3 separate regions of the Homo sapiens genome follow, and all the other regions are reported to be linked to region 2. Evidence: microRNA targets listed by miRTarBase, many of them from high-throughput screens and not tested one by one. Region 2 holds a microRNA gene; each other region holds the end of a gene's coding sequence.

Region 1 (4,073 bases), not on the chromosome of region 2:
CTCATACTCGAAACAGTGACAGTAGGGGTGGCAGGCAGTTGCGAAATCCAAACAATTTAGTTGAAACTGGAACACTACCCATTCTTCGCCTTGCTCACTTTTTTTTACTAAATGAAAGTGATGATGATGATCGAATACGTGGTTTAACCAAAGAGCAGATTGACAATCTTTCCACCAGGCACTATGAGCATAACAGTATTGATAGTGAACTAGGTAAAATCTGTAGTGTTTGTATTAGTGACTATGTAACTGGAAACAAGCTCAGGCAATTACCTTGCATGCATGAATTTCACATTCATTGTATTGACCGATGGCTCTCAGAGAATTGCACTTGTCCGATCTGTCGGCAGCCTGTTTTAGGGTCTAACATAGCAAACAATGGGTAAGGTGATGGGATCTACTCAAATACTGTTTTTTAGTAGAACTGAATGTTCAAGCATTGTTTTGCTGAGTTATTTGTGATTAGCTAACCAGGATGAAAAATAACAGATTATATATAGTTTGAACTATTTTTCGTGTGCTTTTTTAAACTTGTTAAAAAGAAATTTATATAAAATTTAAAATACAAATGTTAAATTATCCAGAAATACAGAATAGTTAATATTGCTAGAACCAAATAACCTCTAAAATGTTTTTATTTTGGTAATTTTGTCATGCTAAGCACTTTTGTATCTGCACAATTCAGTAGGTTAAGAATCAATCTTCTTTTTCTTAATAGTACAGCAGACTTTAGCTTCAAGTTTCATAGGCTTAGTACTTATATCTAGACATTTGTGTCTAAATAAGCTTTTCATTAACTTTTTATTTTAAGGACAGTATCTTTTCATGAAAGAGTATTTGGCTGAATGTTTGCTATATATATGTTACTTGAAATGTTAAATTTAATATGCAGCATACCATAGGTGTATATATAGGTATATAATTTTAAGGTTAAAATATTCAGTCTACAAGTTTGGTTCTTATTTAAGCTTTTGGGCTAATACTGCATATGGCACAATGTTTAATATTGGCAAGTTCATCTCAGAGAAAGGGGATTCAGATATAATTTTAAAGTAGAGATAATTTACTGAAGCGTCTCTGACAATCTAACTTATTAGACAGCAAGCAATATATAATACTGAAAAAGTATTCAGAAATGGAAAATTTACATCATATAGGTTATTTAACTTGTGTTCAGCCTTTTTGTAACTTTTTTGAAAGTGCAAACAATTCTTTGGATTATTAAATAAGGTATACAGTATGCATGGTTTCTCAAATTTAGTTTTAAAATCTAAAAGTCTATAAAGAATCAGATGCATAGGCAATATGTTAAGTTCACTTGGAGGCTAAAAATCTCCAGTGAAAACAAAACGAAAACCTTTAAGAGAATGTAGAGTTTATATAAACACAAAGTATGCATTGAAGATCTGTTTCTACCAATAAACATTAAAACAAAGACTGTATGTGAACTATGTTTTTCTGTTGTTCCACTGTGGTTTATTCACCCTCCACTAATATTTCATACTAGATGCCAGGCAGTGTTATGGGATAGAGTATTTCCCAGACGACAGACAAAAGTCCCTGGCTTCATGGAAAAGACATATTTGCTCTTAGAAACTGAATATCAATTGATAAAGTGAATTATTATTCTTACTTTCATATTTGCTTATTAATATATGACAGGATTTTCTTGTGGTGATACTGTTTGGGCAAAATCACAAGAACAGTACTTAGGCCAGATTCTGTGAGATTTAGAAATATCTCCACATTTAATTTTCCTTTCTGACTGGTGACTATGTTCAATTCATTAGGTTAGATGCATGCCCAGGAATGTTAAGGAGTGCATTTACATGGAGTAAAAGGTTTTCATAAAAGTTGTGACTTTGTTTGGAGTAAATTATTTATGTAGGTCAGTTTGAGGATCTAAGACTGGGAAGGTTGATTTCAATCAGATTTGAAGGCTTTTCATAGCAAACTAAGGACTTTTTATCTTACCTTATAGAGATGTTAGATGTCTCTTGATTTTAGTGGCATAGGGTAGGATCATTTTTCATGGCCCAGGAGGATGGGTCTACTACAGCATATAGAACACAATGGAATGGAGAGAGATGGGAAGCAAAGAAACCAATAAGAGAACTATTGTGATAAAAGACATCATTATTTTTATTACCAGTTGTCATCACTTATCTACCCTAGAATGGTGGCAATGAAACTGAAAGGAAAGAGAAGGGTGTAAAAATGTTGGTTTTTAAAAAAAGACGTTGTTTGGTCTCTAGTTCAGTATGAAGAGGTGGAAGAGAGAATCACCTAGGTGGAGGAGGGAGAGGTAGCACAAATTAGTTACAAGGTATGCCAATTTAAACATCTTGAACATAGCTTAATTCATACATCTCACTTATTTTAGTGTTAAAATTTGCCCCCAGTATGAGGAGAGACTAAATCCAGCATTTTTATTTTTATTTTTATTTTTATTGAGACAGAGTCTCACTCTGTTGCCCAGGCTTGAGTGCAGTGGCACTATCTCGGCTCGCTGCAACCTCCGCCTCACAGGTTCAAGCAATTCTCCTGCCTCAGCCTCCGGAGTAGCAGGGATTACAGACATGCGCCACCACGCCCGGCGAATTTTCTGTATTTTTAGTAGAGACAGGGTTTCACCATGTTGGCCAGGCTAGTCTGGAACTCCTCACCTCATGATCCGCCCACCTTGGCCTCCCAAAGTGCTGGGATTATAGGCATGAGCCACCATGCCTGGCCCGTTTATTTCTTATATGGGATATTCCTCAGGAAGTTCTACCTCCCTGGGCCTGATGCAATAGGAAAATTAGGAGGACAAAGGAAGAGGGGAATGAAAAAAGTAAGGATACAGAAAAAATAAAGGCATATTGATTCTTTGACTTAGTCCTTTGCAAGACATGATAATGTTACTAGCATGGAAAGAAATCCCATATAGGCATTTGAAACAGAAGTAGATTGTGTTTTGTATGGAAAATTCCCTGAAGGCAGCAGTACAGCTTAATGAATTTCATAAATTGATAACCCAGTTGGGAATAAAAAAGGATATTCTTTAATATTTTCATTCATTTCCCAATAAACAAGGCTGATGACAAATACAAAGGCCCATTAATCTATTTATAGCTTCTATTTAGCAATGATTATACCCTTTGTGGTTCCAATATAGAGAAGAACAAATAGTTAGAAATTCTTCATTTGAATATTATGTTCCATGTCAGGTCCGTAGAGCTTGTTCTTTATAGTGTGGCTGTCTGGCAAACTTCTATTTCTAGATTGCCAGCTTCCAGCTGCCCTCTCACATAGTTACAGCCTTTTACCCTGTTTTCTCTTTTCCTAGATTTTTTTAGTTTCAGCCAGCATTATGACCCTTACTTAATTATCACTCTTACGAGGTTATTTTCCTTTCAATATTTAACATGAATTCATAATTTAAACCTCTGAAGCTCTCCTTGAAGTATTTTTGCTACCTAACTTAGTAATTGGCAGAGTTTAGGGAGTCAATCACGTGGCTATTTGCCTCCAAAGCTCCTGCTTTTCCTGCTATGCTGCATTCTGGAGAAGTGGAAATGCCTTGGGAAGTTTTCAGTCTAATTTAATTCCTCCTAAAGATATTTTTCTAATTTTACAACTTTGTTCTATCATATGTCTGATTACCCTAATTTCCATAGGCAAATACATCCTTCTGTCTCATGAATGGAGGAGAAGAGTTGCCCCTAAAAGATATAACAGAATCTGTATTATAAAGATGAATCCAGGAAAGAGATGAATGAGGCATCTGAAGATGCTGCATTAAGGGCCAGAGTTGACAAGCTCAGTCTGAGGCATTTTCATGTATATTACTCCCAGACAAGAACATCTAATGAACTTTTAATCTTCCTGCATCTCTCCATTGGAATAATCTGTGGCCAGGGGAGGAGAAACTAGAAACAGCACTTTACATGAAAGCCAGGGTGTTAATTCACTTTGCAGTAGTAGGTGGCTCACTTGGGGTCTCTCATTCAGTCCTGTGCAACACTGGAAATCAGAGAGCTGGCGTATCTGTATTAGGAGATGATTTCCCAGGAAGCCAGATTCATCTATCG
Region 2 (4,000 bases):
GTCTGCCTCGGCCTCCCAAAGTGCTGGGATTACAGGCGTGAGCCACCGTGCCTGGCTTATACATTATGATTGTAGATATATCTCTTGAGTCTCTAAACTACAGGTTCTCCTTCCATCTTTCCTTTTTCATTCATTACAAAATTTCTTTTGAAGAAATTGGGTTGTTTATCTTATATATTTTCCCACAGTCTATGTTTCGCTGATTGTAGCCCTGTGGTGCTGTCATTCCATCTATTTTTTTGAGATGGAGTCTTGCTATGTCCCCCAGGCTGGAGTGCAGTGGCACGATCTGGGCTCACTGCAACCTCCTCCTCCCGGGCGCAAGCAATTCTTCCACAGCCTCCTGTAGCTGGGACTACAGGCATATGCCACCGTGCCCAGCTAATTTCTGTATTTTTAGTAGAGATGGGGTTTCACCATGTTGACCAGGCTGGTCTCGAACTCCTGACCTCAAGTGATCCACCTGACTCTGTGTCCCAAAGTGCTGGGATTACAGGCATGAGCCACCTCGCCCAGCCTGTATTATTTTTTTTTTTCCTCAGCAGTCAGATGCCCTGTATTACATTCTTGCCGCCACTCCATTTTTACAGCACACAATAAAGAAGACTTGATCATACTTAATTTGCCTAAGCATTTGAAAAAAAAATTAATTCTCGGATAAGTTTTTGTAAGTTCGTAAATATAAGAATGCAAGTCTAAAATCCACAGGAAAAATATATTTCTGCTTTGCTAAAATGTCTGCTAAAAATAAAAAACCAAACTAAGTAAGCAGAAATAAATTAAGAAATGGGAAGGAGTCTTGAAAAATCAATCTTCCCAGAGTCGATATTATTAACCACCTCAGAAATAAGCAGCGCAGGGAAAAGTATGTGGCTCCTCAAGGCACTTGGGTCTCTTATGGCTTAGAAGTCCTCTGAATACATACATCAAGGTTTCCCAAAAATATGTCAACGAAAACCCACATAACTATTTTTGTTTGTTTCTTTCTTTCTTTCTTTTTTTTTTTTTTTTTTTTGAGACGGAGTCTTGCTCTGTCACACAGGCTGGAGTGCAGCTTGCTCACTGCAACCTCTGCCTCCCAGGTTCAAGCGATTCTCCTGCCTCAGTCTCCCGGGTAGCTGGGACTACAGGCATGCGCCACCACGCCCGGCTAATATTTTATTTTTAGTAGAGATAGGGTTTCACCATGCTGACCTCAGGTGATCCCACCTCCTCGGCCTCCCAAAGTGCTGGGATTACAGGCATGAGCGACCATGCCCAGTGAAAGCCCACATAACTATTTATCTTCATTTTAATTCTCTTGCTTCAGGGTTAGTGTTAAAAAATTTGAGGTTAGCATATAGGAAGGAAGTCCTCTTACTGGATCAATGCCAAAAGGGTATGGTCCACCAAACACTCCAGGGAGGGCTGGGTTCAGCTGTAGAACAGGGTTCCCCCGAAGCGTCTCTTCACTACCATGACAGGGAAAAAGTCACATTATTTTTGAACAAGAGAGGGAAACAACAAGGGTCCAGAAACTGACCCCAAAATAAATTACTGTAGCTATCTTGTCTCTTCAATAAAATGGGAGGGGAAAAATAAAGAGGAGAGACTAGCAGCTGAGACTGAGGGATCCAAAATGACAAAAAGAAAAATTAAACACACAAACACACAATCAAGTAGGGAACTGGGGAATCTGGTTTTAGTTTCCAAAAAAAAAAAAAATCATTTCTAATCTTAGTTCCTGGATACTTGCTGAACAAATCACAAAGCAACTCACAGTGTGGAGCATGAATGAGGAGACACTGTCACCACTTCCTAAAGAAGTGTCAGTTTACCACTTGTCTTAAAAATCAGGGCTGCACATGAAAGGAATAAGCTTTGAATTTTAGCTTCTTCTGCAACTTACGTCCAATTATAAGTAAACATCGGCCGTACACTCCAGGATGACCCAAAGATATTAAGAGACTTGGAAAAGCAATCATTGTAGATGAGGCCAGTGTACATGGAGAACACACCCATCAATAAAATAATGTATCGACCACTGAACACAGTGCTAAACATCTGGGAACCAGAAGAAAGAAGTAATGAGAATGTACTCACTGCAGCTCACATTGTGACAATGTTATTCAGAATATACCTGCCCCTTTCTCCAGCACTACTTTACCCCATCCTGATTCAGAGAGCTTGAAGTAAAAACCAAAATACAATGCTAATGAGACAGTCACTTTCACAGGATGTGGCCTCTATTTTTTTATTAGGTTGGCACAAAAGTTACTGCGGTTTTGGCCATTTCTTTTGGCAGCCAAAACCGCAATAACTTTTGCACCAAACCTAAATAATTTTTATTTTTTTAGAGATGGGGTCTCACTATGTTGCCTATGCTGGTCTCGAATTCCTGGGCTCAAGTGATTCTCCTGCCTCAGCCTCCAAGTAGCTGGGACTACAGGCACACACTACCACTTCCAGCTTGCACATGTCGTCTTTGGTGTTAAAATGAACATAACTTCTCTACTTCCTTTTGATAAATTCATGGATAAAAGACTTCCAGATCATAATTTTCATAATGAATGCTTGGGAAATTATAAAATTTCAGTTCAATGCAGATGTAACTTAAACATTACCTCATTCTCATTCTTCTGGGAAAGGATCCGGCTCTCCCTCAGTACCATCCACACAGCAAAAAGGGTCATTAAAATGCCATGACCGAAGTCTCCAAACATCACAGCAAATAGAAAAGGGAACGTGATAATAGTATACGGAGCTATGAAGAAACCAAAAAAAGAAAAATACAAAGTACATTAAACCATAGCAATTCCACAAATATTACATTCTTTTCCATACCCACCCCCCTTTTTTTTTTTGAGATGGAGTCTTGCTCTGTCAGCCAGCAATGTCTCAATCTTGGCTCACTGCAACCTCCATCTCCCAGGTTCAAGTGATTCTCCTGCCTCAGCCTCTTGAGTAGCTGGGATTACAGGTGCCCACCACCATGCCTAGCTAAGTTTTGTATTTTTAGTAGAGACAGGGTTTCACCATGTTGCCCAGGCTGGTCTCCGACTCTGACCTCAAGTGATCCACCTGCCTCGGCCTCCCAAAGTGCTGGCATTACAGGCGTGAGCCACCGTGCCCAGGCTTCCATAATCTTAAGATCAATATAAGGTGACTTACTCCCCAGCTGCCAGACAGATAGGACTCTCAGAGAAAATCTTTCATGGCAGAATCAACACATCTTCACAAAGTAGCTAATGAAATTTGAGCTACTGATAACTTTTTTTAAAAGAGAGATGGGGTCTTTCTCTGCCACCCAGGCTGGAGTGCAGTGGTTTCATCACAGCTCACTGCAGCCTGCAACCCCTGGACTCAAGTTATCCTCCCACCTCAGCCTCCCAAACAGTTGGAACTACAAGTATGTGCCACCATGCCCAGTTAATTTTGTTTTAAAATTACTGATAAATAATATTTTTTTAGATGGAATCTCACTATTTTGCCCAAGCTAGTCCTGAACTTGTGGCCTTGAGCAATCCTCCCACCTCAGCCTCCTGAATATCCGAGATTACAGGCATGAGGCACTGTGCCTGGCAGCTCTGATAACATTTCAAACAAAGAACAGTGGAAATGAAGGTGTAACCTTGACAACATTGGTTTGTTCTCTGACTCTCTTGTAACTCGTGGGACCCTGCTCCCAGGGCAGGCCAGCTGTCTTCTCTTTGTGCAGCAACCATGTCCCAGTGATATAAAGCTAAATATCAGATAACGTACAGATGGAGAGAGCCCAGAGCAAAGCAGTTCTTCCATAGGGCTCCAACTGAAAATGAATACTCACACTCTTGATTTAATAATTAACTCTCCAAATATAGGAGAAATCTGTGTTGTACCTAAAGTGGCCAATACTTGCTACATTTTTTCTGTCTAACCTTGGAACAGGGAAGCCAAAAAAAAAGCCATTTAAAAATATCAGACATCTTAGAAGAAACATTTTGCTTAAAACAGTTCCTGCAAATGATTTGCTAGAGAAGTC
Region 3 (4,073 bases), not on the chromosome of region 2:
TATAATTTAGGGATGTATACTTAAATAGTGAATCCATATAAAAACACGCGGAAAACCATTTACCATGAAAGCGAAGTTAAGATGGTCTCAAGTTGTGATCCCGTGGGTGGAGGTGGTTCTGCAGTGCTTGCAATTTTCTGTTTCTTGAGCTCCACTTTGGTTACCTGTTAGTTCACTTTGTAATAATACATTAAAATATTCATTTGCTTTATGCACTTTCATGTATGTGGGTTATATTCCACAATGAAAATTTTCCAATTTTAACAAATGAAGACAAAAAGAAGCAAGAATGATTTGTAGACTTTATATCTTACCTTGTTTCAAGTAACGGCTTGCCTTGTTAAACAAGGAACAGATTGTGGTTATTGCCACTTACTTTGCATGAAAAAGAAAAACTTTGTGGTGATTCTTAGGCCTGTAGGGGCTTTCCCCCGACAGTTGTGTCCCTATCAGATGAGCTCACTTAGGCTGTTATCAAAGCACTTGGTAAATCCCCAGGTACCATCTGATACCAGATTGATTCCCTTATATTTCCTTCTGTATGGGGGCAGAGCCTATGCTTGCTTTATGTACCACTGTGTAGTATGCACAGTGTCTAGAGCATAGCAGATCCTCAAATATCTTCTGATGACTGACATTTCTCTGTACCAGGAATTGGCCAACTTGCTTCCCTCCATTTGCAACTGCCCGTTGCCTGACCAGGGTCCCATGCAAAGAAATAAAGTTATATGTTTTCTTCCTTATTCTTGAAAGAAACATGCTATTTGAAGGTTGTGATTTGTCCTAGTTTGAATTCTCTGTGAATCAGACCGTGAGGAAAGGATTTGCAATTCATTTGGGAGGTGATCCCAGGAAACACTGGTAAAGGAGTAGGGAACTGAGACAGGGAATAGAAGTCAGCCCACAAACGTTGTAAACTAAAAATAAAATCCTAAAGCTTCCCACTGACTAAAGGACCTCCTCTTGGTCAAGGGGACCCCAGAGAAACCCTCAAAACTGAATTCCTGGCCATGATAGAATGGAAGGTCAGACATGCTTTGTTATACTCCCTCCGTTGGATGGCTTAGACGCAACTGACCAGCATGAATGTTAAAATAGAGATCACAGACTGATGGAACAGACACTTTGTGGCAATATTCTTTGTAGCAATGTAGTCTTCTCCATAGTGATATGACACATCTTTTGTTATATTTATTCCCAGGTACTATTTTAAAATGCTGTTACACATTTTTACAGCTTTATTTTCTAACTTCCTTTTGCTGGTATGTAGAAATCTAGGTATCTAGTCTTTTAAATATTGATTTTATTAGCCACTTTGCCAAACTCTTATTATGTATGCCAATTCTTTTGGATTTTCTGTGTACACATTCATATCACTTGTGAGCTATAAGATGCCAAATTATAAACAGGATCTAAGGACATGCCAGGCAGGATTAAGTCACACACTCCTACACTTAAAGAATAAACTATGTTCTAACTGCCACAAGATTTTTCTTTTTCTCGAGCAGCTAAACAAACACTGGCCTTGAGTGTCTGAAGCAACTGCAGCTTCACCAAGTGTTGACTGACTCCAGCCCATTTTCCACCAGCCATAACTACAGTTTTAACTGGACAAGAGGATTTTAGTAGCTTTCTCATGATAAGAGACCAACCACTGTGAACTGGCTCTGGCCTGTTTACAGAAATGGTGCATTGTGTGCCTTCGTGTTACTGCTTCACCTTTTCATGTATAGGGCCTAACTGTAATACATTTAAATGTTAAGCCTCCACCCCAAGGTGTAACATGCATGCATCAGGACTGCCTTCATGAATATTCATGAATCCACCTGTAGCCTGTTGAATATGTATACTTGGCCAACCCATTCAATTTAAATTTCTGTCTTACTCTTCCTTCCCTAGAAGTGCCTGCCTCCGGTCTTTGCTGGAGGTTACGCTTTCTAGCCTGCAGAATGACCACCTTGTAGGCTGTAACCCTTTGTAAGAAATAAAGTATCCTTTCCAAATGCATGAAGACCCTGTGATTTTTTAGTTAACCATAGTAAGCAAAACACTACTGTGTGTTACTAGAGTTTGATCCCTCAGCGGTATTCCACCTGACAGTTGAGGGAACTGAGATATTTGTACACCAACTACTACCAGTTATTGGTGGTTAAGGGCTGCACTGGGGCTGTGTTATTTTCCCTGCTGCTCTTCTAGAATGCCATGCACAGGTGAGTAAAGCTGGCTCTGGTGGCCAGAGACCCTAAAAAGGGCAGATGCTGACATGACAATAGGAAGTCAGGCCAGCAAGCACTAAAGAGCAAAATGGTATGTATGGGACACAGAAGACATCTGCTACAAGACACTTTTGCGGGTAATGAATGGGGAAGACATGCATGAGGGTGAGGTGAGAATCCCTGATAGTAAATGTAACATGGAGTTGATTAAAACAGAACTAGAATGATGTCTGGCAGCCTGTAACCTTCCTGCTCATCCAAGCTGCCAATCCTTGGATTTAGCTTAAAATCAGGCTGGGCTTTGTCTTAAAAACTTCTTTTAATATCTGTTTTACTGTTTCCCTATCTCTTCTGCATGCAGTTTGTAGGCATTGAAAAGGTTACTACAGGTGCTAATGATGAATTTGAATTTGGCTTTGCTGAAAGATTCCATGAAGATTCGTTTTCATCTCAGTAGGAATCTCAAACTGTTCCTCTGTCTTCCCAGAAGTACCCTCCAGCTCTAAAATTATGTGATGCTAGCACAGATACCAAGACTCTAGTAGCAATCCTGCCAAAATGAATATAGTGTCTTAGATTAGAAGTTGTTAGAGATGTCATCAAATCTGGACTCTAAACATTAAAAATCTATACTAATAACATTCAGAGTAGGTTCATGCCTATGATTCTAAAGACCTGCATTTGCTATTGGGCAGTCTTGTATTCTAGTGAACTTGACTCTTACACCCAGGTATAGATCTCAAAAGACAAACTTTAAAAGGTATTAGCAATACTTTATTGAATATATTAACTGACAACTGTGGTTAATAAAAACTAATATTTTTAATAACTTCATTTTTAAGTATTTATAAATATAAACTGCATTTCACTCAGTTTCTTTTCCACCAGTTGGAATTGTAATTAAAACATGTTAAAGTTCTTCACATTCATTCACACAATTGCACTCCAGAAATGGTCAAATGCAGTAGCTTATCTGCATTACATTTGCCAGGGTATATGCTGAATGTTTTGCTTTCCCCTTCTTAAGACACTGAGAAAAAAAAAAAGTTATATGAAATAGGCATTAATTTTCCTCTTTTTTATATAAAAAAGTCCAAAATTCTCTGCCAAAATTCCTTTATCTTTTTAGGTTAAAATAAGTGAATAAGTTTTGTTTGTTTTTATGATCCAGTCAGCAAGATTCCCACTGGTATGTTACATCATTTTCTTGAAGCTGATTATGTGGCACAGTCCATAGTCTGCCTTGACTTTGACAGTTCTCGTTTCAGTTGTTCAAAGCACACAAACATAATGACGTTCCAGGATCCAAGTCGCAAGAAGGAAGGTACCAACCTAGAAAAGTGCATGTCATCGTTCGATTAATTTGTTTGATTTTTTTTTTTTTTAATTTTTGAGATGAGGCTTCACCCTGCCGCCCAGGCTGGAATGCAGTAGTGTAATCATAGCTCACTGCAACCTCGAGCTCCTGGGCTTAAGTGATCCTCCCACCTGAGCCTCCTGGAGTAACTGGGACTAGAGACTGCACCACCACACTCAGCCTGAAATTCTTAAAGTGATTATAGCAGGTTATGCTTCTCATTTTGCCACTCCTCAAGTGAAGATGCTTAAAAGTACCTACTCTTCATCTTTCCCTCCTCTGCTGAAAATAAATTTTCCTCTAGATGTCCTATATTACTTCAAAACAACACAGCCCTGATGATCACATCTATACAAATCCACAAATATCCTTCACTCCCAAAACATGTCTTTTCTTCACTGACATGAACTTTTTCAAAAACTCTTTCCTTTTTTGAGGGAAGGGGGAATTTTTGCTTGTTTTGCTTTGCTTTCTGAATGGGAGGTAGGAAACTATTAGAA

The links. The annotated mature microRNA hsa-miR-548at-5p reads AAAAGUUAUUGCGGUUUUGGCU and lies in region 2 at 2,283-2,304, opposite strand. An mRNA with a match to its seed (bases 2 to 7 or 8) in the 3' UTR can be bound and repressed. Matches are read on the target gene's strand: a 7mer-m8 pairs with bases 2 to 8, a 7mer-A1 pairs with bases 2 to 7 and ends in A, and an 8mer does both.
Region 1: the mRNA of RNF6 is a reported target of hsa-miR-548at-5p. Seed matches in the 3' UTR shown: 7mer-m8 at 795-801 and 7mer-m8 at 1,186-1,192.
Region 3: miRTarBase lists UCP1 as a target of hsa-miR-548at-5p. Seed matches in the 3' UTR shown: 7mer-m8 at 3,260-3,266 and 7mer-A1 at 3,128-3,134.

The regions. Positions count from the first base shown.
Region 1 is chr13:26,210,137-26,214,209 of GRCh38, reverse strand. It overlaps RNF6 (ring finger protein 6), which reads left to right. Exons shown (of 5, transcript NM_005977.4): 5 at 1-1,435. The coding sequence ends at 386. Among named protein-coding and RNA genes, the nearest start is that of RNF6, 10 kb to the left of the region's middle.
Region 2 is chr17:42,493,077-42,497,076 of GRCh38, reverse strand. MIR548AT (microRNA 548at) reads right to left here and starts at 2,304; the gene lies at 2,247-2,304. It overlaps ATP6V0A1 (ATPase H+ transporting V0 subunit a1), which reads right to left. Exons shown (of 22, transcript NM_001130021.3): 12 at 2,604-2,743; 13 at 1,889-2,043; 14 at 1,361-1,451.
Region 3 is chr4:140,556,463-140,560,535 of GRCh38, forward strand. UCP1 (uncoupling protein 1) reads right to left here. Exons shown (of 6, transcript NM_021833.5): 6 at 2,969-3,548. The coding sequence ends at 3,434. Among named protein-coding and RNA genes, the nearest start is that of UCP1, 10 kb to the right of the region's middle.